Linked DNA regions of Homo sapiens: regions 1 and 2 are each linked to region 3. The links come from fine-mapping of genetic effects on gene expression. A gene starts in region 3. Each other region holds a variant in brackets. All regions are shown on one strand. Distances are from middle to middle.

What was found. PIP is the estimated chance that this variant, and not a neighbour inherited with it, causes the effect.
Region 1: its variant is fine-mapped to the expression of RGL3 in lung (GTEx, PIP 0.92).
Region 2: its variant is fine-mapped to the expression of RGL3 in whole blood (TOPMed, PIP above 0.99).

Annotation. Positions count from the first base shown.
Region 1 is chr19:11,391,090-11,401,534 of GRCh38, forward strand. It overlaps RGL3 (ral guanine nucleotide dissociation stimulator like 3), which reads right to left. Exons shown (of 19, transcript NM_001035223.4): 14 at 9,113-9,208; 15 at 8,951-9,019; 16 at 8,766-8,862; 17 at 6,356-6,508; 18 at 6,155-6,269; 19 at 2,971-3,431. The coding sequence ends at 3,313. Among named protein-coding and RNA genes, the nearest start is that of EPOR, 12 kb to the left of the region's middle. The variant T/G (reference allele first, on the strand shown) is at 4,622.
Region 2 is chr19:11,324,786-11,335,230 of GRCh38, forward strand. It overlaps RAB3D (RAB3D, member RAS oncogene family), which reads right to left. Exons shown (of 5, transcript NM_004283.4): 5 at 1-800. The coding sequence ends at 613. It also overlaps a transcript of TSPAN16 not described here. Among named protein-coding and RNA genes, the nearest start is that of TSPAN16-AS1, 8.7 kb to the left of the region's middle. The variant T/C (reference allele first, on the strand shown) is at 5,913.
Region 3 is chr19:11,414,785-11,422,263 of GRCh38, forward strand. It overlaps RGL3 (ral guanine nucleotide dissociation stimulator like 3), which reads right to left and starts at 4,530. Exons shown (of 19, transcript NM_001035223.4): 1 at 4,462-4,530; 2 at 3,887-4,000; 3 at 2,052-2,275; 4 at 1,830-1,883; 5 at 1,153-1,364. The coding sequence starts at 4,494. ODAD3 (outer dynein arm docking complex subunit 3) reads right to left here. Exons shown (of 13, transcript NM_145045.5): 11 at 6,893-7,048; 12 at 6,344-6,428; 13 at 5,821-6,163. The coding sequence ends at 6,051. RefSeq lists an enhancer at 6,590-6,639.

The sequences.
Region 1 (10,445 bases), 22 kb before region 3:
TGCTCAGCTATTCAGACAGTGTGAACCACCTAATCCAAAATGATCCACTCCACGTCTTCATTCCCACCAGCAGGAGGGAGGAAAGGGGGAAAAGAAGGACACACCGCTTCCCTTTAAGGGCAGGTTCTGAAATTTGTTCACATCCTTTCCCTTTATATCTTATTGGCCAAGACTTAGCCAGTGGCCAGATATGACCACACCTTGCTGCAGAGGAGGTGGGAAATATGGCTTTTACTTTGGGAGGCCAGCTAAAAATCAGTGGTTCCATTACCATAGAAGAAGGTGATTAAATTTGAGGGGACAATGGACTATCTCATTCTCAGAGCAAATCAGAGCAAAGAGACAGCAAGAAAACCCTGATGACATCTTATGAGTGCCTGGATGCAACTGTGCCTGAAGCCCTACTCATTGGACATTTCAACTGCATAAGCCACAAATGTCCTTTTTTGCACATGCCTCTTTGAATTGGGTTTTTGGTCGCTTGCAACAGAAAGAACTCGATTAGTGCAATGAGATGTAAAGACCATAGCTGATGTTCTCTGCTGAGTAGGAGCTCATAAGTGGGCATATTATTGTGGTTGTGACTATGTAGCAGTTCGCCCTACAGCTCATTTCATCCTCTCTATTGTACTCCAACGCTGACAGAGAGCTCACGCCTCTCTTTTCATCCTCACAATCCTTTTCTTTTTCTTTTTTTTTTTTTTCCAGACAGAATTTTGCTCTTGTTGCCCAGGCCGGAGTGCAGTGGAGCGATCTCGACTCACTGCAACCTCTGCCTGCCTGGTTCAGGTGATTATCCTGCCTCAGCCTACCGAGTAGCTGGGATTACAAGAGCCTGCCACCATGCCCGGCTAATTTTTTGTATATTTAGTAGAGAAGGGGTTTCACCATGTTGGCCAGGCTGGTTTTGGAATCCTGGCCTCAAGCAATCCACCCGTCTTGCCCCCCCAAAGTGCTAGAGCCACTGTGCCCAGCATTTTTTTTTTTTTTTTTGAGATACAGTCTCACTTTGTCACGCAGGCTGGAGTGCAATGGCATGATCTCGGTTCACTGCAACCTCCACCTTCTGGATTCAAGCAATTCTCCTGCCTCAGCCTCCTGAGTAACTGGGATTACAGGCACCCACCACCATGCCCAGCTAATTTTTATATTTTTTAGTAGGGACAGGGTTTTACCATGTTGGCCAGGCTGACCTTGAACTCCTGACCTCAAGTGATCCGCCCACCTCAGCCTCCCAAAATGATGGGATTACAGGTGTGAGCACTGCGCCTGGCCCTTTTTTTTGCTTTTTGAAACAGGATCTCGCTCTGTCACCCAGGCTGGAGTGCAGTAATCTCGGCTCACTGCAACCTCCACCTCTTGGGCTCAAGTGATCCTCGTGCTTCAGCCTCCAGAGTAGCTGAGACTACAGGTGCAGGACACCAAACCTGGCTAAATTTTATTTTATTTTTTGAGATGGAGTCTCCCTCTGTCGCCCAGACTGGAGTGCAGTGGTGCGATCTCGGCTCGCTGCAAGCTCCGCCTCCTGGGTTCACGCCATTCTCCTGCCTCAGCCTCCCGAGTAGCTGGGACTACAGGCGCCCGCCACCACGCCCGGCTAATTTTTTTGCATTTTTAGTAGAGACGGGGTTTCACCTAGCCAGGATGGTCTCGATCTCCTGACCTCATGATCCGCCTGCCTCAGCCTCCCAAGTGCTGGGATTACAGGCGTGAGCCACCGCGCCTGGCCAATCTTTGTATTTTTTTGTAGAAATGGGGTCTCACTATGTTGCCCAGGCTGGTCTCAAACTCCTGGGCTCAAAATCCTTCCACCTTAGCCTCCCAAAGTGCTGGGATTACAGATGTGAGCCACCACACCCAACCTCTTTTTCTCTTCTTTGCACAGATGGGTTATCTGTGACAGGAAGAGGAAGAAGGTGAGGGCAAGTGAAAGGGCCCATCCTCACAGCCCTTATTGACTCATGGGTAATGATGCTATTTGTTTCTAATTCTGATGGAATTTCAGTTAGTCACTCTCCCATATATACAGTAGAAAAGAGGCATATCACCCCAAAAATGTTGGGGAAGGAAGTCCTAAACCCTCTTTGTGTGATAGGATCCTTTATTTATTTATTTAGTGAGATGTGATCTCACTGTATTGCCCAGGCTGCTCTCGGACTCCTGAACTTAAGCAATCCTCTTACCTCAGCCTCCCAAAGTACTGGGATTACCCTCCTGAGCCACTGTGTCCGGCCAGACAGGATCCTCTCTGGCATCTGGGTTGAGTGTCATACCCGACTCAACACCTTTCTTAGGGCTCTTAGTTTTTTTGTTTTTGAGACAGGATCTCCCTCTGTCCTCCAGGTTGGAGTGCAGGGGCCCAGTCACTGCTCACTGCAGCTTCAACCTCCCAGGGCTCTGGTGATTCTCCCAGCTCAGCCTCCCAAGTAGGTAGGATTACAGTCTCATATCACCACACTCAGAAAATTTTTTGTTTGTTCATTTGTTTGTTTGTTTGTTTTTGAGATAGGGTCTTGCTCTGTCACCCAGGCTGGAGTACAGTGGTGTGATTTCCACTCACTGCAACCTCCACCTTCCGGGTTCAAGCAATTCTCCTGCCTCAGCCTCCCCAGTAGCTGGGATTACAGGTGCATGACACCACGCCCGGCTAATTTTTTGTACTTTTAGAAGATGGGGTTTTGCCATGTCGGCCAGGCTGGTCTCGAACTCCTGACCTCAGGCGATCTGCCTGCCTTGGCCTCCCAAAACGCTGGGATTACAGGCGTGAGTCACCACGCCCAGCCAAATTTTTGTATTTTTTGTAGAGACAGGATCTCGTTATGTTGCCCGGGCTGGTCTTGGCTCTTAGGTTTCTCTCTCTCTGTGTGTTTGTGTGTGTGTGTGTGGGTGTGTGTGTGGTAGCTGTTTTCCTTTATCTTGATAAAGGGTGAACATGGCACACAGGCGCAAAATAAACAAGACTGACACCTGTTTCATAACTCTGGTCACTATTTTCATCCGCATCTGTCACTTCTGATGCGTCTCTAACATTTATAAGATTTCTCTGGGGAGGGATTTGACGTATCCATGCCCCACCTCTTTCTACATTTATGGGATTGAGCTCTCCACCAGCCACCCATGGGCTGATGTCTTTGGAATATGGATCTAGTACCAACAGAGTCAGAAAAAGAGATGGGGTCCAATGGGCTACAGTTGGGTGGTGGTCCTGGGATACACAGCACAGTGGCCTCTACTGGGGGATGGCAGCTTTCCAGGAGAAGAGTCGCAAGCTTGCCTGTGGGACTTGTGTCTTGTGGAGAGGACAGGGCTGCCTCAGCTTGGGGAGACAGACAGAGTGTTCCGGGTCCCCTCTTTCCGCCGCAGCATGAAGTCTCTGGGGGCGACTGGACTCATGGCATAGAAGACGTTGGCATTGTCAGGAATCAGGAGCACTGGTCAGGAGTGGAGATGGTGGTAATAGGCCCTCACAACCTTGTGTCACCCCCACAGAGGACCCGGGAGCCTCCTGCCACTCACCCGCGAACCTGAACAGCCATGGGTCCCTCTGCAGCTACTGCCAAGCCAAGCTCATTCTGCTGTCACTGGGAACCTGGACGACTTCTCACTTGAAAACTTGCACCACCTCATGCCTTCCCTTATCATAAGCCTGGGCAACCTCCTAATATTCTCCCCCTCACCATAGAGACAAGGCAACCTGCAGTAAAAGTTTGAGCAAACTGGCCGGGCGCGATGCCTCGTGCCTGTAATCCCAGCGCTTTGGGAGGCCGAAGTGGGTGGATCACTTGAGGTCAGGAATTCGAGACCAGTCTGGCCAACATGGTGAAACCCCGTCTCTACTAAAAATACCAAAAAAATGAGCTAGGCATGGTGGCACATGCCTGTAATCCCAGCTACTCGGAAGGCTGAGGCAGGAGAATCTCTTGAACCCAGGAGGTGGATGTTGCGGTGAGCCGAGATCCTGCCATTGCACTCCAGCCTGGGCAACAGCACGAGACTCCATCTCAAAAAAAAAAAAACAAAAACAAACAAAACCGACAACCTGCAGTAAAAGTTTGGGCAAACTTAGACCACCCTAGACCACCCCCCGCCAAACAACTTCCTGCTCACCCTACCCCTCCCCCACAACCACTCCCAGCCAATCCCATGCTGCTGTCACCATGAACTTGAATAACTTCCCACTTCCAGCCTGCACGAGCTTGTGGCCTCACACTCAACACCTGAACAACCACAAGCATCCTTTCCTAATATCCAGCCAACCTCATGCCATGTACTTCAGCGTGAATACGCTCAATCCCTTGCTTCTCCCTGTCAGACAGGACAATCTCATGCTTCCGCGGCTATCCATTTGCCTCTCTCCCGTCCCAAGTTCAGATAACTTCAGGGTCCCAGTGGTGAACAAACTTAGTTCTCACAAATCTAAGCCCAGATGCCCTTTAGTCTCCCATCCCATCAGGTTGAGCCTGAACAATCTCATGATGCTACAAACTTAAGATCAGACAAACTTCTACACTCCCTTCTCTCACTCGACCCTAGACAATCTATTTTTTCTTTTTTTTTGAGACGGAGTCTCACTCTGTCGCCAGGCTGGAGTGCAGTGGCGCAATCTTGGCTCACTGCAACC[T/G]TCACCTCCTGGGTTCAAGTGATTCTTCTGCCTCAGCCTCCTGAGTAGCTGGGACTATAGGCGCCTGCCACCATGCCTGGCTAATTTTTTGTATTTTTAGTAGAGACGAGGCTTCACCATGTTGGCCAGGATGGTCTCGATCTCTTGACTTCGTGATCCACCCGCCTCGGCCTCCCAAAGTGCTGGGATTACAGGCGTGAGCCACCATGCCCGGCCCCCTTTTTTTTTTTTAATTGAGACAGGGTCTTGCTCTGTCACCCAGGCTGGAGTGCAGTGGCGTGATCTCAGCTCGCTGCAGCCTCCACCTCCTAGGCTCAAGTGATCCTCCCACCTCAGCCTCCCCAGTAGTTGGAGTTGGGAATACAGGCACATGCCACCATGCTCAGCTAATCTCTCTCTCTCTCTCTCTCTCTCTCTCTCTCTCTCTATATATATATATATATATATATTTTTTTTTTTTTTTTTTTTTTTTTTTTGAGACAGAGTCTTGCTCAGTCGCCAGGCTGGAGTGCAGTGGTGCGATCTCGGCTCACTGCAACCTCCGCCTCCTGGGTTCAAGCGATTCTTCTGCCTCAGCCTCCCGAGTAGCTGAGACTACAGGCATGTGCCACCATGCCCAGCTAATTTTTTTGTATTTTTAGTAGAGACGGGGCTTCACCATGTTGGCCAGGCTGGTCTCGAACTCCTGACCTCAAGTGATCCACCCGCTTTGGCCTCCCAAAGTGCCGGGATTACAGGCGTTGAGCCACCGCACCCAGCCAATTTCTCTATTTTTTGTATAGATGGGGTCTCCTCATGTTGCCCAGGCTGGTCTCAAACTCCTGAGCTCAGACAATCCACCCACCTTGACCTCCCAAAGTGCTGGGATTACAGTTGTGAGCCACCATGCCCAGCCCATCCTACAAATTGAAGGTCAGAAACACTCCCTTCTGTCACTTGTCCGTGGACAGTCTTTTTTTTTTTTTTTTTTTTTAAACAGAGTCTCGCTCTGCTGCCCAGGCTGAAGTGCAGTGGTATGATCTCGGCTCACTGCAACCTCCGCCTCCCAGATTCAAGCAATTATTCTCCTGCCTCAGCCTCCTGAGTAGCTGGGACTACAGGAGTGTGCCACCACACCCGACTAATTTTTGTATGTTTCGTAGAGACGGGGTTTCACCACGTTGGTCAGCCTGGTCTCAAACTCCTGACCTCAAGTGATCCGCCCAGCTTGACCTCCCAAAGTGCTGGGATTACAGACATGAGCCACTGCGCCTGGCCGGACCCTGGACAATCTTATTGTCTTTTAAATTTTAGGAAGATGACCTTTGGTACCTCTCTCTCACACTGAGCCAAGACAATCTCATGACCCTACATCGTTGGGTTACAGGTATTTTATGTCCTCTTACCTCCACTGATTATCTTACCCCTACTCTCTGCCTGAAGCACCTCACAGCCCTGTGAACCCGGGTAACCTTGGGCTCCATCCTTGGGCGTGGTCAGTCTGCTCGCCTCCCCGCTGCCCCCTATCCTGAGCTCCAACCCATCCCTGCTCACCCCGGTCCCCAGGAAGGACTTGAAAGAGCTGATAGTCACAGGCCCAGGGCTGGGGCACATTGTGCTTCTGCAAGGCTCGCCGGACCACGCTGGGGGCTTTGTCCTGACTGGTCAGCTGGAAGAGAGGGGCGGGAGGTGAGGTGAGGGCCCCGGCCCCAAGGGCAGGGCAGCCTCCAGCAGACCCCCAGCCCAGCCCCTCACCAAGATGCTTCGATACAGGTTCCCGTGGTCATTGTCGATGCTGACGCGGATGACACGGGCCTCCGAGCTCTGCTGCGCCGGGAGGGGGATTCGAGGGCTGCCCAGAGGCAAAGCGAAGGGCCGGGGGCTGGGCAGGTCCAGGCTCAGGGGCAGCTGCAGGCAGTAAGGGGTGGAGGCTACAGCTTGGCCCATCTGCAGATGCTGAGGGCTAGAAAAGCACGAACACCCCAGCCACCACTGGTGCATTCAATAGCCCCACATTTAAAATCTCAAGAAAACATTGGCTGGGCGCAGTGGCTCATGCCTGTAATCTCAGCATTTTGGGAGGCCGAGGTGGGCGGATCACTTGAGGTCGGGAGTTCAAGACCAGCCTGGCCAACGTGGTGAAACTCCGTCTCTACTAAAAATACAAAAATTAGCAGGGCCTGGTGGCGCATGCCTGTAATCCCAGCTACTTGGGAGGCCGAGGCAGGAGAATCACTTGAACTTGAGAGGCAGAGGTTGCAGTGAGCCAAGATCACGCTACTGCACTCCAGCCTGCGTGACAGAGCAAGACTCCATCTCAAAAATAAATAAATAAATAATAAAATAAAATAAAATCTCAAGAAAACATACTACTACCCCCTACACATGCAGAGCCTGGGACATGCAACTGGAGTACATTCACAAGCCTGCATATACACCACCCTACCATATACAGACTTTGGTTACCTGTTATAGAAACAGACATGAACAGTGTCCATATACACACAACCCATGCTCATACACAAGAAATCCTGTGTACATACATATGCTGACAGCGGTTATACACCCACAGCCCATGCCAATGAACAACCCCACACATGATCTCATGAATACTCAGGCCCACATTTCCTCTTCTGGTACACAGATTCTTTTCTTTTTCTTTTCTTTTTTTTTTGAGACAGAGTCTTGCTCTGTCACCCAGGCTGGAATGCAGTGGTGCCATCTCAGCTCACTGCAACCTCTGCCTCCCAGGTTCAAGCAATTCTCATGCCTCACCCTCCCAAGTAGCTGGGATTACAGGCCTGTGCCACTATGCCCAGCTAATGTTTTTATTTTTAGTAGAGACGGGGTTTCACCATGTTGGCTAGGCTGGTCTCAAATTCCTGGCCTCAAGTGATCCACTGGCCTCGGCCTCCCAAAGTGCTGGGATTACAGGCATGAGCTACCATGCCCAGCCTTCATTTCCTTCATTTCCTTTTCTTTTTTTGTTTTTCTTTTAGAGGGAGCCTCGCTCTGTCACCAGGCTGGATGGAGTGCAGTGGCACCATCTCAGCTCACTGCAACCTCCGTCTCCTGGGTTCAAGTGATTCTCCTGCCTCAGCCTCCCAAGTAGCTGGGACTACAGGTGTGCGCGACCATACCCAGCTAATTTTTCTATTTTCAGTAGAGACAGGGTTTCACCACGTTGGCCAGGATGGTCTCGATCTCTTGACCTCGTGATCCGCCCACCTCGGCCTCCCAGAGTGCTGGGATTACAGGCGTGAGCCACCGTGCCCAGTCTCTTTTTCTTCATAAACAGGATCTCGCTCTATCATGCAGGCTAGAGTGCCGTGGCATGATCGTAGCTCACTGCAGCCTCAAACTCAAGCGATCCTTCCACCTCAGCCTGCTGAGTAGCTGGGACTACACCCAGCTAATTTTTTTGACTTTTAATAGAAATAGGGTCTCACTATGTTGCCCAGGCTGGTCTTGAACTCCCGGCCTCAAGCAATCCTCCCACTTTGGCTTCCCAAAGTGCCGGGATCACAGGCAATAGCCACCGTGTCTGCCATGGTATGCAGATTCTTAGGGACATACATGTCCTCAAAAAAGTGTAGGCTGGGTGCGGTGGCTCACACCTGTAATCCCAGCACTTTGGGAGGCCGAGGTGAGTGCATTGTTTGAGCTCAGGAGTTCGAAACCCACCTGGGCAACATGGCGAAACCTCATCTCTACTAAATAAAAAAAATAGCAGGGCATGGTGGTGCACACCTGTGGTCCTAGCTACTTGGGAGGCTGAGGTGGAAGGATTGCTTGAGCCTGGGGGAGGGGTGGAAGTTGCGGTGAGCTGAGATTGCACCGCTGCACTTCAGCCTGGGTGACAGAGCAAGAAGACCCTGTTTCAAATAAAAAGGGGTGTGATGTGATTGCACCCTAGATGACCCATGGGCAAGCAGTTACACAGGTCCAAATCTGAGCACGAGTCGGATTTATGAGTGATCACCCAAACAGGGCCGTGCAGATGCATGCAATCCCCTGGATGGATACCCCGGGCGCTCAGTGTGCCTCCTGTATACACTCCTGGCCCCACAATCCTGTGTGTACACATGTGCATGCACACACACGTGCACACACACAGAGCCTGGGTGCCCGCAGGCCCGCATGCACACACAAGCCGTCTTGGTACCTTGGTGCTGGGGCCCTGGGGCCCTGGAGAGGCCGGGGGACTGCCAGCAGGAGCATCTCTGCTTCTAGGACTTGAGGGGGGTGACCCTGGGGACACACTGGGGGAGATGCAGAGGCTGAGGTGGGGTGGCTGTGCTGACTCCTGATCCCATGATCCCCAGTCCCATCACCAAGCAGAATGCTCACCTGGAGGTGGGGGATGAGGGGTCCCCGGGACTCCCACTAGGTGATGAGCTTTTCTCTCGGGCAAGCTTCCTAAGGATGGGGACAGGGGATGAGGCTAAGGCAGGAGCAGCCCTTGCTGATATCTGCCCACATCACCGCCCCTACACACACCCCGAGACTCACGCACTGAGACGCTTGGTGAGGCTGATCCGCCGTCGGATGCGTGGGGAGCTGGGGCAGGAGGCAGCTGGTGGCTCAATGACCCGGGAGAGCCGGTAGCTGAGGGGTCAATATGTGGATGAGGTGGTGGGGGCAGGAAATACAGGGGATGGAGAGATAAGAGTTGGAATCAGTTGGGAGGTGGGTTTGGGGTGTAAGGGGGAGCAGCCAGAGGTGGCACCCCACATGCCAGGGTCAGGGTGGTAAATGAGGGTCATTGAGCATCAAGGTCTTATCAGAGATGGGACAGGATGGCTGGTCAGGAGGTCACAAAGAGATTCACAGGGTGGCACTAAGGAATCAAATTGGGTCAGGATTAAAGTCAGGGTCAGGACTGGGTGCAGTGGCTCACGCCTGTAATCCTAGCACTTTGGGAGGCTGAGGCGAGAGGATTGCTTCGGGTCAAGAGTTCGAAACCAGCCTGGCCAATATAGTGAAACCCCGTCTCTACTAAAAATACAAAAAAAATTAGCCAGGTGTGGTAGCTCGCGCCTGTAATTGCGGCTACCGGGGAGGCTGAGGCAGTAGAATTGCTTGAACCTGGGAGGCGGGGGCTACAGTGAGCCGAGATCACTCCACTGCACTCCAGCCTGGGAAACAGAGCCAGACTCTGTCTCAAAAATAAATAAATAAATAAATAAATAAATAAATAAATAAATAAATAAAATAAAGTCAGGGTCAGACTGGGGTCAGGTCACCATTGGGGTCAATGGTTAGGGTCACAGTTATATAGAAAGAAAGGACACAGTTGTCATAGTCAAGCTGGACAGTCAAACATAAAAGTTGGAGTCAGTTACTCAGAACTGAGGGTCAAGGGTTGGGGTCAGAGAGTCAGATGAGGGGTCATGAATAAGGTCATGGGTCAGATAGGACCAAAGATGGGGAAGTCAACAGATGGGACAGTTGAGTTGAATGGCCAGCTGAATGCTAAAGTTGAGGTCAGAAAATCAGATGGGGTTGAAATTGAGGTCAGAGGTCAATTGTGACTATTTTTTTTTTTTTTTTTTTGAGACAGGGTCTCACTCTGTCACCTAGACTGGAACTGCAGTGGCGTGATTTTGGCTCACTCCAACCTCTGCCTCCCAGGCTCCAGCAATCCTCCCACCTCAGCCTCCCAAGTAGTTGGGACCAACGGCACTCAACACCACATTCAGCTAATTTTTTTTTTTTTTTTTTGAGACGGAGTCTCGCTCTGTTGCCCAGGCTGGAGTGCAGTGGCACCATCTCGGCTCCCTGCAAGCTCTGCCTCCCGGGTTCACGCCATTCTCCTGCCTCAGCCTCCCAAGTAGCTGGGACT
Region 2 (10,445 bases), 89 kb before region 3:
TTCTACAATGGGAAAAGGCTGCTTCAATGCTGCTTTTCGCAAGTAGAGGGTCTGCAGGGGTCAAAGGGATCACCATCCCACCTTGGAATCCAGAAAGTTCGTGGGGGCAGGCTCAGAGACCAGCCTGCAGGACCTGAGAAAGAGGCGCCGCCTTCCCTGGATGAACTCCAAGAACCCACACTGTGCGAGGAAGATGAACCATCTTCCACCAGCTTGGGAATATCAGTCCTGCCCAACCCAGAAGAGACCTGGAAAATGGTTCTAAGCTAGAAGGCACCACGGATGCCCCTCCATCAGAAAGAGTGGGACGTGTCACCCATGGCCACCCTCAACACACCCTGGAAAGCAGCAAGCTCATGCACGTCAGTGTCCCTGGGCCTCTGCCTGCCATGCAGAGCTGAGTCCCCATGGTCCGCAGCCTCCCACCGGGGCTGCCTGAGGAACCTGGCAGCCACGGCGACATTGTGAAGGAATGAGCCATGCAGGAGTCGGGGAGCAGTTGACAGGAGGGAAGGGATTGCCCTGAGCTTGGAGATAACCACTGTGGCTCACGCCTCGATCACAGTCCCTGCCGAGGCAGGAGAGGGGTGGGTGGGGGGTTGGGGGCCATCTCTAGCAGCTGCAGCTGCTGGGCTGGGGGGCTGGAGCATCCCCCACGGCCGGGCCTTTCCCGTTGCTGCCTGAGCTGGAGCTGGGTTCCAGGGACTCGTTCATCTTCTCGCAGATGACATCCACCAGGCGCTCGAAGACCTGCTTCACATTGATGTTCTCCTTGGCACTGGCTTCAAAGAACTCGAAACCTGGATGAATGTTAAGGTGGGGACACTCGTAAGACCCCTGAGGGCAGAGTCTCAGCTGTGGCATCACAGAAACCTGGCTTCTAAGCCTAGTTCTGCTCTTTATCCTGCTGTGGGACCTTGGTTGTGTGCCTTTGCCACTCCAAGCCTCAGTTTGCTCACCTGTAAAATGGGAATGATGATCCTACCAATGATAAAAATCTGTGGCAGGCCAGGCGCAGGGGCTTATGCCTGTAATCCTGGCACTAAAGGAAGCTACGGCGGGAGGATCGCTTGAGGCCAGGAGTTCAAGACCAGCCTGGGCAACATAGCAAGGCCCTATCTCTACAATAAATTTTTTTAAAAAGTAGATGGGCGGCCAGGTGAGGAGGCTCATGCCTATAATCCCAGCACTTTGGGAGGCCGAGGCGGGAGGATCATTTGAGGTCAGGAGTTCAAGACCCGCCTGACCAACATGGTGAAACCCCATCTCTACTAAAAAGACAAAAAATTAGCTGGGCATGGTGGCACGCGTCTGTAATCCCAGCTACTCGGGAGGCTGAGGCAGGAGAATTGCTTGAATCTGGGAGGCGGAGGTTATAGTGAGCTGAGATCACACCACTGTACTCCAGCCTGGGCAACAGAGCGAGATTCTATTAAAAAAAAAAAAATAGAGGGGCATGGTGGCGTTCACCTGCAGTCTCAGCTACTCGGAAGGTTAAGGCAGGAGAATGGTTTGAGCCCAGGAGGTCAAGGCAGCAGTGAGCCATGATCACACCACTGCACACCAGCCTGGGTGATGGAGCAAGACCCTGTCTCAAAAACAAAACAAAACGAAACCCTGCGGCTGCAGCCATGGTCTGGACAATCCTAAGATCTCTTTGTCACAAGGCAGTGGCTGCAAGAGTATAGGTGGGAGGGTACATGAAGAGTTCTGCTGCCCTGCGGCCATGGCAGTGCCCACAGGTGGCTATAGCTCAGCTTCCACCCAATTTCTGCTGCACAGAAAGGCATGGTCAGGAGACCCATCAAGTCACATTTTCCATTGCTTTTTTTAAAAGAGAAACGGTCTCTCTCTATTGCCCAGGCCGGGGTGTAGTGGTATGAACATGGCTCATTGCAGCCTCAACCTCCTGGGCTCAAGCGATCCTCCCGCCTTGGCCCCCTGAGTAGCTGGGGCTACAGGTGTGCCCCACCATGCCCGGCTAATTTTTCAATTTTTTCTTTTGTAGAGGTGGGGGTCTCGCTATGTTGCGCAGGCTGGTCTTGAACTGCTGGCCTAAAGCGATCCCCCCGCCTAGGCCTCCCAAAGTGCTGGGTTTACCAGCGTGAGCCACCACGCTGGGCTTCCTGCATCCTTTTAAGGTTCCTGAGGGTCTGCCTGAGAGGAGCTGTCCCTGAATCTCCATGCAGCCCCACCTGCCACATCACCAAGGTAAGCCAGGAATTCAGACAAACGCCTGCCACGTTACACGTGGCCAAGGGTAAGTGGACCTGTCTTCTCTGTGCGTCATGCTGAACTATGAAAATGGAATCATAATGAGTTAGCTGTGTAATTACCCATTTATTATCTGTCTCCGCTACTAGAAAGCCAGCTCCAGGCAGGCAGGATTTCCGCCCATGGCTGTACCCAGTGCCCGACACAGAGAGGGTGCTTAGAAACTGTCTGCTGAATGGTTGAATGAATGAATGGGTAAATGAACAATAGCAGGGGCAGGACATGAACTTAGATCTCCTACTGTCAGCCCAGAGATATCAAAGCCATCCCACTGTCTTCCTGGGCAAATCTGGTGTTTCCTTATCCACGCGTGGCTTTGCCTCATACCATCTGTGTTCTTTATTTTTCTTTTTGTTGAGACAGAGTTTTGCTCTTGTCGCCCAGGCTGGAGTGTAACGGCACGATCTCAGCCCACTGCAACCTCCGTCTCCCGAGTTCAAGCGATTCTCCTGCTTCAGCCTCCCAAGGAGCTGGGACTGCAGGTGTGAACCACCATGCCAGGCTAATTTTTGTATTTTCAGTAGAGACAGGGTTTCGCTATTTTGGCCAGGCTGGTATCGAACTCTTGACCTCAGATGATCCACCTGCCTCAGCTTCCCAAAGTGCTGGGATTACAGGCATGAACCACCGTGCCCAGCTTATTTTTCTGATATTAATCAGGCGTGGTGGTATGCGCCTGTAATCCCAACTACTCAGGAGGCCAAGGCAGGAGAATCACTTGAACCCAAGAGTTCAAGACCAGCCTGGGTAACATAGGGAGACCCTGTCTCTAAAACAAATAAAAATTTTAAAAAGGAAAAAAAATACATTTTTTGGATGTCATTCAATAGAGAAATTTACTGGAGAAACTAGAAACTACAGAAAAGTATTAAGACAGCCTATAATCCCAGTACTTTGGGAGACTGAGGCAGGTGGGTACCTGAGCTCACAAGTTTGAGACCAGCCTGGGCAACATAGCAAGACCCAGTCTCTAAAGAAAATATAAAAATTAAGGCCAGGCATGGTGGTTCACGCCTGTAATACCAGCATTTTGGGAGGCCAAGGTGAGCGGATCACTTGAGGTCTGGAGTTTGAGACCAGCCTGGCCAACATGATGAAACCCCGTCTCTACTAAAAATGCAAAAATTAGCTGGCCATGGTGGTGCACACCTGTGATCCCAGCTACTTAGGAGGCTGAAGCAGGAGGATCACTTGAACCTGGGAGGCGGAGGTTGCAGTGAGCCGAGATTGTGCCATTGTACTCCAGGCTGGGTGACAGAACAAGATATTATCTCAAAAAAAAAAAAAAAAAAAAGAAGAAGGTTGGGGGGTGCCAGGCGTGGTGGCTCACGCCTGTAATTCCAGCACTTTGGGAGACGGAGGTGGGCGGATCACGAGGTCAGGAGTTCGAGACCAGGGCCAATACGGTGAAACCCCGTCTCTACTAAAAATACAAAATTTAGCTTTGTGTGGTGGCACGTGCCTGCAGTCCCAGCTACTCAGGAGGCTGAGGCAGAAGAATTGCTTGAACCCGGGAGGTGTAGGTTGCAGTGAGCCGAGATTATGCCACTGCACTCCAGCCTGGCAACAGAGCAAGACTCCATCTCTAAATAAATAAATAAATAAATATTAGCCAGGTGTGGTGGCATGCACCCGTAGTCCCACCTACTTGGGAGGCTGAGGTGGGAGGATGACCTAAGCCAGGGAAGTTGAGGCTGCAGTGAGCTGAGGTCATGCCATTGCACTCCAGCCTGGGCAACAGAGTGAGACCCTGTCTCAAAACAAAAACACAAAGAAATGTATGGAGATAGAGATAAAAGTAATTTGTAATCTCATCACTTGGAAACAATTACTGTTGGCGTTTTGCTATTTAGCTTTCTAGTCTTTATTCATCTTTTTTTTTTTTTTTTTAAGACAGAGTCTCCCTCTGTTGCCCAGGCTGGAGTGCAGTGGTATAATCATAACTCACTACGGCCTTGACTCTTGGGCCCCCCTCAGTCTCCCAAGTAGCTGGGACTATAGGGGTGTGCCACCACACACAGCCGATTTTTGGTATTTTTTATAGGGGTGGGGCTTCACCATGTTGCCCATGCTGGTCTCTAACTGCTAGACTCAAGTGATCCTCTGCCTTGACCTCCCAAAGTGCAAGGATTACAGGCATGAGCCACCATGCCCAGCCTTTAGTCTTTTTCTATATAAATATGTCATTTGTTGGGGTTAGGTTTGTAGGGGATGTGTGTGTGCACATGTATGTGTGTCTGGCTTTTTTTCCTACAAAATTGGAATCAGGCCAGGCGTGGTGGCTCACACCTGTAATCCCAGCAGTTTGGGAGGCCGAGGCAGCGGATCACCTGAGGTCAGGAGTTTGATACCAGCCTGACCAACATGGTGAAACCCCATCTCTACTAAAAATACAAAAGTAGCCAGGCGTGGTGGCACATGCCTGTAATCCCAGCTGTTCGGGAGGCTGAGGCAGGAGAATTGCTTGAACCTGGGAGGCGGAGGTTGCAGCGAGCCAAGATTGTGCCACTGCACTCCAGCCTGGGCAACAAGAGCGAAACTCCATCTCAAAAAAAAAAATAAAACAAAAGAAAAGAAAAAAAAATTGGGATCAAATTCTGTGTCCTGCTTTGTATGCCAATCTTCTTTTTGTGTGTGTGTGAGATACAGGCTCACTCCATCACCCAGGCTGGAACGCAATGGCGCGATCTTGGCTCATTGCAACCTCCGCCTCCCGGGTTCAAATGGTTCTCATACCTCAGCTTTCCAAGTAGCTGGGATTACAGGCACGTGCCACCACACCCAGCTAATTTTTGTATTTTTGGTAGAGACAGGGTTTTACCATGTTGGCCAGGCTGGTCTCGAACTCCTGACATCAAGTGATCTGCCCACTTCAGCCTCCCAAAGTGCTAGGATTACAGGCGTGAGCCACCGAACCTGGCCTGTACTCCAATATTTTAAACATAATAACAGAAAGTGAGAATCCCCCTTTACCCCGAGACCCCAGATATAATCCGCAAGTAGGTGTGGAAAGCACCTCCAAGTATTCCAGCCCATCGCGGGCGTTAACTGATTTCACCACTTCCAGGCTAACTGGGGATCCAGGGCCCTGCCCCACAGAACAGAGATCCAGTTTCTCCAACAAAGCAATGGCAAGAATAAAAGGGGAAAGGGACTGGTTATGGCTTAGAGGTCAGCAAACCTCCTCTGTAAAAGGCCAGATCGTAAATATTTTAGGCTTTCTGGGTCATATGGTCTCTGTCTCAATTACTCAATTTCACGCTTGAAGCACTGTTTATACCCTTTTCTGTATTGAGACAGCCTGTAATCACAGACGTGTGATTACCATAAAAATAGCAACCATAGACAATGCATCAACAAATAGGCATCAACTGAGCACGGGTGTGAGTTCACTCCTGTGATCCCAGCACTTTGGGAGGCCAAGGTGGGAGGACTGCTTAAGCCCAGGAGTTCAAGATCAGCCCAGACAACATGGCAAGACCTATCTCTTAAAATTTTTTTCTTTTTTGAGACGGAGTCTCGCTCTCTTGCCCAGGCTGGAGTGCAGTGGCACGATCTCGGCTCACTGCAACCTCTGCCTCCCAGGTTCAAGCAATTCTCCTGCCTCAGCCTCCTGAGTAGCTGGGATTACAGGTGTG[T/C]ACCACCACACCCGGCTAATTTTTTTGTATTTTTAGTAGAGACGGGGTTTCACCATGTTGGCCAGGGTGGTCTCAAGCTTCTGACCTTGTGATCCACCCGCCTCGGCCTCCCAAAGTGCTGGGATTACAGGCATGAGCCACTGCGCCCGGCAAAAAAATTTTTTTTTAATTAGGCAGGTGTGGTGGAGTACACCTGGCATCCCAGCTACTTGGGAGGCTGAGGTGGGAGGATCACTTGAGCCCAGGAGTTGGAGGCTGCTTTGAGTTATGATCGTGCCACTGCACTCCAGCCTGAGCACCAGAGAGAGACCTTGCCTCAAAAAAAAAAAAAAAATTTAAAAAATAAATGGTTGGGAGGTTGAGGCGGGTGGATCACCTGAGGTCAGGAATTCCAGACCAGCCTGGCTAACATAGTGAAACCCCATCTCTACTAAAGATACAAAAATTAGCCAGGCCCCGTGGTGGTGGGTGCCTGTAATCCCAGCTACTCAGGAGGCTGAGGCAAGAGAATCACTTGAACTGGGGAGGCGGAGGTGGCAATGAGCCGAAATCACGCCATTGCACTCCAGCCTGGGCGACAAGAGCAAGACTCCGTGTAAAAAAAAAATTCTTTTAAAAGGGTATAGCTGTGTCTCAGAAAAACTTCATTTATAGATACAAATTTGAATTTCATATAAATTTCCCATGTCATATTATTTTTTTTCAACCACTTAAAAATGTAAAAACCAACCAGGTGCCGTGGCTCATGCCTGTAATCCCAGCACTTTGGGAGGCTGAGGCAGGCCGACTGCTTGAGCCCAGGAGTTCAAGACCAGCCTGGGCAATATAGTGAGACCTCATCTCTACAAAAAATAAAAATAAAAAATTAGCCAGTGTGCTGGCTTATACTAGTAGTCCCAGCTACTTGAAAGGCTGAGGCAGCAGAATCACTTGAGCCCAGGTGTCTGAGGCTACAGGGAGCTTTAAACTTATTTTGTAGAGTTGGGGTCTCACTATGTTGCCCAGGCTGGTCTCTAACCCCTGGGCTCAAGCAATCCTCCCTCCTCAGCCTCCTAAAGTGGTGGGATCACACCACTGTACTCCAGCCTGGGTGAAAGAGTGAGGCTCTGTCTCTATTATTTAAAAAACGACGACGACAACAAAACAGCTGGAGTTGCATAGTGAAGTGTTTACAGACAAAAGGTTTCGATGTCAAGGGTTTGCTCTCAATGCTCTAGGAAAAAAAGGAAAAGTATTTTGGGGGAATAGATGATTCAAGATTGAAAAAATGTTGAGACCTAATTAAGCTGAATAATGTTTTATCAAAGTCTATTATACATTCCTTTCTACTTGTGAATGTATTTGAACTTTTCTTAGATGGAGTTTCACTCTTCTTACCCAGGCCGGAGTGCAATGGTGCGATCTCAGCTCACACAACCTCCGCCTCCTGGGTTCAAGTGATTCTCCTCCCTCAGCCTCCTGAGTAGCCGGAATTACAGGCATGCGCCACCACGACCGGCTAATTTTGTATTTTTAGTAGAGATGAGGTTTCACCATGTTGGTCAGGTTGGTCTCAAACTCCTGACCTCAGGTGATCCGCCTGCCTCGGCCTCCCAAAGTGCTGGGATTACAGGCGTGAGCCACCACGCCTGGCCGAACATTTCTCATTTTATTTCATTGTTTTTTGAGACAAGGTCTCACTCTGTCACCCAGGCTGGCATACAGTGGTGCAATCTTGGCTCAATGCAACCTCTGCCTCCCAGGCTCAAGCGATCCTCCCACCTCAGCCTCCTGAGTAGCTGAGACTATAGGTGTGAGCCACCATGCTTAGCTAATTTTTGCATTTTTTTGTAGAGACAGGGTTTACCATGTTGACCAGGCTGGTCTCAAAGTCCTGGGCTTCAGCGATCTACCCACCTTGCCCTCCCAATGTGCTGAGAGTATTTGAACATTTTTATCACAAAAAGTTATTATTTTCTTCCTTTTTTGAGACAGGGTCTCGCTATATTGCCCAAGCTGGTCTCAAATTCTTGGCCTGAAGCAATCCTCCTAATTCAGTCTCCAGAGTAGCTGGGATTACAAGCACATGCCACCATTCCTGGCCAAAGTTATTTTTTTAAAAAAGTGTAGGCCGGGACTATAAAAACCAACCAGGTGCAGTGACTCCATCTCAAAAAAAAAAAGTGTTAAGAACATCTGTGAATCAAGCTGGCAGATTTCTTGCCTCATGTGTCCAAAGAAATATATGTAAAAATGACTGCTGCAGCTGCATTTGTCAGAGGAAAAGGCTAGAAATAATCTCCATGGCTGTCAACAGAGGAAAAGGTTAAGGAAACACGAAATGGAATAGTACACAGCCATGCAAAAGAATGAGCCAGCTCTGGGGCTGATGGAGAAATATTTCTTTTTTTTTTTTTTTTTGAGAAAGAGTCCTGCTCTTCTACCCAGGCTGGAGTGTAGTGGCGTGATCTTGGCTCACTGCAAGTTCCGCCTCCCGGGTTCACACCATTCTCTTGCCTCAGCCTCCCGAGAAGCTGGGACTACCGGCGCCCACCACCACGCCTGGCTAATTTTTTTGTATTTTTAGTAGAGATGGAGTTTCACAGTGTTAGCCAGGATGTTCTTGATCTCCTGACCTCATGATCCGCCCTCTTCGGCCTCCCAAAGTGCTGGGATTACAAGCGTGAGCCACTGCGCCCGGCAGAGAAATATTTCTAGGATATATTATTTAGTAGAAAAGTTCAAAGTGCAGGAAAGGGTATATACAGTAGGGAACATCTGTGTAAAACAAAAAAGTAGCCAATGTGTTGTCAATGCCTGTGGGTGCTCAGCATATTTCTGGAAAGAGATACAAGAATCAGAGAAGCTGGGAGACCAGAACTGCAGGTGGGGAGTGGGTTATTGCCTTAGTCTCTTCCTGTGCCTTCTGAATTTTGCACATAGGGTGCTGGCTTGGATGGGGCTTATGGGAAAGCTGGGGTTAAAAACTGATTGCAAGCATCAGTTTCTTTCTTTCCTTTTTTTTTTTTTCTTTTGAGACAGAGTCTCCCCCCATTGCCCAGGCTGGAGTGCAGTGGCGTGATATCGGCTCACTGCAGCCTCCACCTCTCAGGTTCAAGTGATTCTTCTGCCTCAGCCTCCCAAGTAGCTGGGATTACAGGCGTCTGTCACCATGCCCGGCTAATTTTTGTGCATTTTTAGTAGAGACGGGGTTTTGCCATGTTGGCCAGGCTGGTCTAGAACTCCTGGCCTCAGGTGATCTGCCTGTCTCAGCCTCCCAAAGTGCTGGGATTTCAGGCATGAGCCACCACGCCCGGCCACAAATAAAGTTTTATTGGCAAACAGTCACACCCATTCATTTATGCATTGTCTGTGGCTGCTGTCATGCAGAGTTGGGTAGTTGCCATAGAGACTGTATGGCCAAAAATATTTACTATCTGGCCCTTTAAGAAAAGGTTTGCTGACTCCTGGACTAAAGAAAGCAGTCGTATCCACTATTTTGCTAGAACAAAACAGCCAGGCACGGTGGCTCACGCCTGTAATCCCAACACTTCGGGAGGCTGAGGCAGGTGGATCACCTGTCAGGGGTTCAAGACCAGCCTGGCCAACATGGCAAAACCCCATCTCTACTGAAAATACAAAAATGAGTCAGGCATGCTGCGCACACCTGTAATCCTGGATACTCAGGAGGCTGAGGAAGGAGAATCACTTGAATGCAGGAGGTAGAGGTTGCAGTGAGCCAAGATCGCACCACTGCACTCTAGCCTGGGCAACAGAGGGAGACTCCATCTCAAACAAAAACAAAAACAAACCATAAAGAACATCCCCTTGGGCTGGTGTGGTGGCTCATGCCTGCAATCCTAGCACTTTGGGAGGCTGAGGAGGGAGGATCACTTAAGGTCAGGAGTTCGAGGCCAGCCTGGGAAACATAGCGAGACCCTATCTCCACGCAAAATTAAAAAAAAAGGCCAGGCATGGTGCCTCACGCTTGTAATCCCAGCACTTTGGGAGGCCAAGGCGGGCAGATCACGAGGTCAGGAGATGGAGACCATCCTGGCTAACATGGTGAAACCCCATCTTTACTAAAAATATAAAAAATTAGCTGGGCATGTGGCACGCGCCAGTAGTACCAGCTACTTGGGAGGCTGAAGCAGGAGAATTGCTTGAACCTGGGAGGTGGAGGCTGCAGTGAGCCAATACGGCACCACTGCACTCCAGTCTGGGTGACAGAGTGAGACTCCAACTCAAAAAAATAAAATAAACCTGGGAAGCGGAGCTTGCAGTGAGCCGAGATCGCGCCACTGCACTTCAGCCTGGGCGACAGAGCGAGACTCCGTCTCAAAAAAATAAAAAATAAAAAAATAAAGAACATCCCCATCCTTTTCCATGGCTGCATAGTATTCCACCATGTGAATATACTTTATGTCCACTTGGTTCTCCAACTGTGAGACACCTGGGGGGGATCTGTAGGTTTCACTCCTACTAATACTACTACTACACTCCACACACCATATCCCACATGGGTGAGGATATCTCTAGGATCAATTTCCAGAA
Region 3 (7,479 bases):
CAACAGGTCCTCCTCTCATGCACTCACAGCCTATGAGATGAGCAAAAGCCAATAATCAAGTAAGGAGGCTACGCATGCACAATGGCTTATGGCTGTAATCCCAGCATTTTGGGAGGCCAAGGCAGGCAGATCACTTGAGTTCAGGAGTTTGAGACCAGCCTGGGCAACATGGCACAACCTCACCTTTACAAAAAAATTAGCCGGGCGTGGTGACATGCGCCTGTGGTCCCAGCTACTCAGGAGGCTGAGACAGGAGAATGGCTTGAGCCCAGGAGGTGGAGGTTGCAGTGAGCCAAGATTGTGCCACTGCACTCCAGCCTGGGTAACAGTGCGAGACTCTGTCTAAAAAAAAAAATAGATAAAAAAATAAAATTAAATTAAATTAAATTTAAAAAGAAATTCAAAAATAAGAAAAATTTTACAGGCTAGGTATAGTGGCTCGCGCCTGTAATGCCAGCAGTTTTGGAGACCCAGGCGGGAGGATCACCTGAGTCCAGGATGTTGAGCCTGCACTGAGCCATGATGGAGACACTGCACTCCAGCCTGAGCAACGGAGCAAGACCCTGACTCAAAAAAAAGAAAATAAAGACAAGTATCAAGGCAATGGTTTGTAGCTAGAAACACAGAGCATCCTGACCCAACGGCACCAAGGAGGGAAAAGTATTAGACACATGCTAATACTTCAGACAAAGAATTTGTTTTTTTTTTTAGACGGAGTTTCGCTCTGGTTGTCCAGGCGAGAGTGCAATGGCACGATCTCGACTCACCGCAACCTCCGCCTCCCGGGTTCAAACGATTCTCCTGCCTCAGCCTCCCGAATAGCTGGGATTATAGACATGCCCCACCACGCCCGGCTAATTTTGTATTTTTAGTAGGGATGGGGTTTCTCCATGTTTGTCAGACTGGTCTCAAACTCCTGACCTCAGGTGATACACCATCCTTGGCCTCCCAAACTGCTGGGATACAGGCGTGAGCCACCACGCCCGGCTGACAAAGAATTATTATCCCCATTGTAAAGATGAAGAAATTGAGGCTTAGAGTTTAAAATCTTGCTTAAGTTTTGTAGCTCTGAGAGGGGAGAGAAAGCCTGTGTGGGAAGAAGCAGACAGGAAAGGCCTTCTCAGAACACGACTGGATCTGAAAACCCCTCACCTGTCCACACCTGAGGCGGCTCCTCTTCCTGCTCTCGCTCAGCCTCCTCCAAAAAATCTTCCAGAAGCTTCTCTGCTTTTTGAGCCTCAGCACTCCCTGGGGCCGCCCAGCCCAGAAAGGTTCGGACACTGCCCAGGTCCGAATGGGCAGGGTGGTCTCGGAAATCCTGAGGGTGGTCCTGCAGCCAGGAGCCCAGCACTGACACCACAGCCCTGGCCAGAGAGGCAGGGTCTCAGAGCTGGGTCCAGAGTGGGGGACATAGAATATGACTCCTGGTACCTTTTTTTTTTTTTTTTTTTTGAGATAGAGTCTTACTGTGTCACCAAGGCTGCAGTGCAATGGCCTGATCTTGACTCACTGCAACCTCAGCCTCCCGAGTAGCTGGGACTACAGGCATGCGCCACCACACCCAGCTACCTTTTTTTGTTGTTGTTGTATTTTTAGTAGAGACAGGGTTTCGCCATATTGGCCAGGATGGTCTCTAACTCCTGACCTCCAGTGATCCACCTGCCTCGGCCTCCCAAAGTGTTGGGATTACAGGCATGAGCCACCACGCCCCACCTGACTCCCAGTCTCTTATTACCCAACCTGCAATTTTCAAAACCCCAGTCCGACTGCTAACCTTTGACCTCTTGGATTTCCCTCCCCGCACTCCCCTATCTGGATGAAGGACCCACCTCAGGTTCTTGTTGAAGCTCAGATCTTGTACCGCTGTCTTCTTGATCTCTACCCTGGGAAGAGGCCCCCCAGCAGGTGAAGAAGGGGGAACCTAGAGGGGGCTTAGGAAGAGGGCTCTGGGTCTGGGAGGTGTTTCCAGGTTCCACACCTGAGGAGGTGGAGGGGGGTGCCCAGTTGGGGTTCTAGGGTGGAGAATACGGAGGTTATGGTTCGCTACTGACCCGGGAGGTGGGGGCGGTGGCATTGGTGGCAGCAGAAAGCCCAGCAGGCAGGCAGTGGGTACAAAGGTCCGGTAGGTGGCCAGGAAGGCGGGCATGAAGCTGGGGTCCTGCTCACGGTCTCCAAACACCAACTCTCCCACCAGCCGCTCCAGGCGCGCTGCCCTCAGCACCCTCACCTTGCTGGTTCGATAGTGGAGGAAGGTATTGGCAATGGGGCTGGGAGCCTGCAGGAGGGGAGAGGTGGCCATGAGAGAGCAGGAGTGGTCCTCACAGCACCCCTTCTCTAGTCACATTCATCACTAGCACCACTCTTTTTTTTTTTGTTTTTTTTTTTGAGACAGAGTCTCACTCTGTTGCCCAGGCTGGAGTGCAGTGGCACGATCTTGGGTCACTTCAACTTCTGCCTCCTGGGTTCAAGCAATCCTCCTTCCTCAGCCTCCAAGTAGCTGAAACTACAGGCGCACACCACCAAGCCCAGCTAATTTTTGTATTTTTGTAGAGATAGGGTTTCACCATGTTGGTCAGACTGGTCTCGAACTCCTGACCTCAAGTAATCTGCCCCCCTTGGCCTCCCAAAGTCTCCCAAAGGGCTAGGATTACAGGCGTGAACCACCGTGCCCAGCCCCTAGCACCACTTTTTTTTTTTTTTTTTTGAGACAGAATCTCACTCTGTCACCTAGGCTGGAGTTCAGTGGCGTGATCTTGGCTCACTGCAACCTCCGCCTCCTGGGTTCAAGCAATTCTCTGCCTCAGCCTCCCAAGTATCTGGGATTACAGGCACCCGCCACCAAGCCCAGCTAGTTTTTTCGTATTTTTAGTAGAGACGGTGTTTCACCGTCTTGGCCAGGTTGGTCTTGAACTCCTGACCTGATGATCCACTTGCCTCGGCCTCCCAAAGTGCTGGGATTACAGGCGTGAGCCACCTCGCCCCGCCTGTAGCACCATTCTTTCATGTGATTCCTCTGTCTCCCGGCTTCTTGGAGTTATTGTTTTGGTTTGTTTTTTTTAGAAACAGGTCTTGTTTTGTTGCCCAGGCTGGGGTGCAGTGGCACAATCATAGCTCACTGCAGCCTCCAAGTCCTAGACTCAAGCGGTCCCTCTGCCCCAGCCTCCTGAGTAGCTGGGACCACTGCTGGGCATCATCACGCACAGCTAGTTTTTTAATTTTTATTTTTATTAGAGAGAATCTTGCTGTGTTGTCCAGGCTGGTCTCCAATTCCTGGCCTTCTGCCTTGGTCTCTCGAAGCGCAGGGATTATAGGTGTGTGCCCCACTCCCTGCCCGCTTGAAGTTATTGTTCCTCCCCATCCACAAATAGCTCCTGCAACTTGCCCTGGAAACCCTCCCTCTCCCATGCCCTGTCCCCTACTCCCTCTCCCGTCCCCTCCCCCTCCCGTCCCCTCCCCCCACCCCCCCGCCCCCGCCCCACACACTCTTTTCCACCCAGGGCTTCCCTCAGCCCTCCTGTCGCGCTTCACTGGCTGCCCCATCCGCCCTCACCTAGCCACTTCTAAACCAACCCCATTCCACCTTCCAGCCCCGGCCCTCTAAACCTGCCTTTCCCAACTCTGCCGTCCAGTTCTGTCCTTACCAAGTTGTCCCTAGGCTCCTCTCGGGAACTGCGCGGCCATCGCCTGGCCCCACCCCATTCCCTGGATCTCCCCCCACTTACCTGGCCGCCCCCAGTCCCCTTTCTACCTGGTCGCCTCATCTGGTCGCCTCCGAGCCCCTCCCTTCCTTCCGCCCACTGCACCTGGCGGCCTGTGCTCGGCTCTCCAGCTCCGCCCTCAACTGGTCGCTTCCGGCCCCGCGCCACCCACCAAACCCCCTCCTCACCTGGCTGCCCCCGGGGCCCTCCGCCGGGCTCCTGCGCTGACTGCGCTGCCGCCGCAGGGAGACACTGTACACCGCGCCGTCCTCGGTCTCTTCACCCCAGTCCTGCAGCGGTGCCTGGACGCACAGGCGGACTCAGGGCACCAAAGGGGCACAGGTCCTGGGGCCTCAGCCTCCTTGGCCGCTCGGACTCGGGCCGAGTCCTCCTGCTGCATCCCCACGCCCCTTCCCGGCCAGAAGCTGCGAGACTAGGGCTGGGGTCCCAGGCTAGTCCCCTCCTCGCTGCGGGTCCCCTCCTCCCAGGTCCTGAGGACATGGGGTGGCATTTGGGGATGTCCCAGGGCCCAGTCTAATAGAACCTGTCTCTAGCTCTTTCTGCCGACTGCGCTCAGAGACTCGCGCCCCCATCCCTAAGAGGAACCAGTCGCTTCACTGGGTCAAGGGCCGCGAGTCCCCAGGAGGGGACTCCAGGGCAAGTTCAGATTGGGAGCAGATACCGTCCGACGGGCGGGCGCTTGGAGTTTCTGGACCTGCGGGTCACCAGGGATGCGGGGTCCGGGGATCCCTTGTCCCCTTACCAGGGCCAGCTCTTTGCCTGCTGTGCGCTCCATGGCCGGCGCCCGTCCCTCTCAGTGGCGCCGCTGAGTGAGGCGGAAGGGCCGGCGGGTGGCGGGTGGCGGGCGGCGGGCAGTGGCCGGGCGCTGAGGCCAGAGGGGCGGAGCGGCCGAGCTGCTGGGGCGGGGCGGGGCAGGGCAGGCCGGACCCAGCCTCTGGGTGCCTCCAGCCGGACCCAGCGCCAGCCCAGGAGAGGTCCTGGCTCTTCCGCTGGGTGCCTATCAATCTGTCCCCAGAAGAAAGGACATATCTGTCCCCAAGGGGTCTTTTTTGTATCCCCAGATGTGGGGGAGCTCCTGTGTGGGGGCATGTGTGTGTCCCCAGACCAGAGTCCTCTGTCCTCCAGTGGAAGGGGCTAGCTTGATCAAGTGTGGGGGCATCTTCCACTTTTTATTATTATTGCTATTATTTTGAGATGGAGTCTCGTTCTGTCACCCATGCTGGAGTACAGTGGCTTGATCTTAACTCACTGCAACCTCCGCCTCCCAGATTCAAAGGATTCTTGTGCCTCAGCCTCCCAAGTAGCTAGGATTACAGGTGCCGCCACCATGCTCAGCTAATTTTTGTATTTTTTGTAGAGGCGGGGTTTTGCCATACTTGCCAGGCTGGTCTCAAACTCCTGGCCTCAAGAGATTCGCCCACCTCAGCCTCCCAAAATGCTGGGATTACAGGCATGAACCACGGCGCCCAGCCTTATTATTTTTTAGAGACAGGGTCTCACTCCTGTTGCCAAGGCTGCAGTGCAGTGGCTTGATCTTGGCTCACTGCAATCTCCGCCTCCTGGGTTCAATCCATTCTCCTGCCTCAGTCTCCCAAGTAGCTGGGACTACAGGCATATGCCACCATGCTCAGCTTTTTTTTTTTTTTTTTTTTTTTTTTTTTTTTTTTTGGTAAAAACTGGTTTTCACCATGTTGCCCAGGCTAGTCTGGAACCCCTGGGCTCAAGCGACACACCCAGCTCAGCCTCCCAAAGTGCTGGGAATATAGGTATGAATGAGCCACTGCACCCCGCCCTTATTTTATTTATTGAGACAGGGTCTGGCTCTGTGGCCCAGGCTGGAGTGCAGTAGCACGATCATAGCTCACTGCAGCCTGGAGCTCCTGGACTCAAGTGATCCTCCCAACTCAGCCTCCCAAAATACTGGGATTACAGGCATAAAACCACTACATCGGGCCATCTCCCATTTTTAAGCTCCATCTGCGTCACTAGCTGATGGGAGTCATCATGACCCAGGTTGGAGGAGGCAGTCTGTGGCCCTGGGTTTTCAGGGACAGCCGTCTCTTGGGTGGTGCAGGGTCAAAAACAGATGAATACCCAGGGGCATGGTCGGTAACATTTATTGCGCAACTCTGAGGCCGGGGCGGACCCAGCTGGGGAGATTTACTGTGGGAACGTCTGGCCCGGCCCCTTCCTCCCCTCCGGGCGCCGCTGGCCGCCTCCGTTCCCGGTCCGGGCCGCGTTCAGCCCCTGAAGGGGCCCCGTGGGGCCTGCGCTAGACCCGGAGGGATCGGGGGCTCCGAAGGGGGCCGCCTGGTGGGTGTCAGGACGAGTCTAGGACCTCCGAGAGCGACGGTGCTTCTTGTGACTTTCGATTAATTTCTGGGAACGGATCTTGAGTGATGCGCGGGTCACTACCTCGTTGTCCTCCTCCTCACTCTCTTCGTCTAAGGGGGGTGGGGGGATGAGCAGGGAGCGATGTGGGATCCAGGTCCCCATCCCTGGCTCCCCTTCCCTTTACCACCCCACTCCACCCCCACCTTGGCCCTGAACAGGGTATCTGACAACCTCCTGCTACCCAGCTTGGGGCCCCAACCGCACCCCTTCATCCCCCCACCCATACTGACCAAAAAACTTGTCCTTGGAAGTGGCAAGGGGCAGGGCGATGCGGGTGTTGTATTCGGGCAGCCTTCCCTCTAAGCTGGCGAGGAACTAAGCGGGGATGGGAAGCGAGAGAGGAAGGTGGGCGGGGCCAGGGGCCACCGAGAAGTCACGTTCCCCCTCCTCCCTACCCCATTCCGAGATATGCCCTAGTTCCAACTGGAGACCACTGCCCACTCCCATCCCTCCTTAAGCAGGCACCTTGATACCCAGCTTCACCCCCTCATCACTCAGGTCCGCCCCTGGTCTCTGGGGCCCTGCCACTAGGCCTCTCCCCATCCGGATACCCCAGCCGCGTCCTCTAGCCTCACAGGACCCGCCTGCACCTCTTCTGGTTTCTTCCCTCGTGGCTCGGGCTCACCCCTGGCTCGTCAAACCTCGCCCGTTGTCCCCGAGACCCCTTCCTGGCTGATCAGCCTGCAATCTGGTCTCCCGAAGTTGCCCCCGGTTCCCTGGTTTTCCGACCCAGCCCTACTCCTAGATCTCTGGAGCTCTGCCCCATGGCTGCAGGGCACCTCGCGGTTAGCGATGTGGCACAGCATCTCCTGCACGTCGTGGCCCTGGAGCTGCGCCTGCAGTTTCAGCAGCTTTTCCTCCACGAGGCCCAGCAGGTTTGGCACATAGTTATCTGCCTGGGGATCCAGCTCCTTTCCCGCGAAGCGGCCGTCCTCCTGCGGCCAGGGTAGAGCCGGGTCAGCCGAGAGGGGTGGGGCCTCTTGGAAGGCTCCACCCAGGGGCGGGGCTTTTCTTTCGGGGGCGGGGCCTAGGAGGTAAGGGCCCACCTGCAGGGTCGATCCTAGCCATTGGGGGCGGGGACTTAGGTCAAGGCCACGTCTGTGATGGGGGAGCCTCTGAACTCTAACTCTATATGTAAAGGTTTCGGGGAGGCCTCTTGGGAACAGTAAGGATTCGAGGGAGGCCATTGTGGGATGGCCTCCTGAAGAAATGGCCCTCTGCTGCGGGCAGGATAGGTCTTCTGTCTCGGGCTGCTCCAGAACTGCAGATAGGTCTCCGAGCTTTTCGGGGACAGGGTGGGACTTCTTTCCCTTGGAGGCGGAGCTTGAGACGGGACAGGGTCTCTGACGTCTTGGGCTTCCTTGGG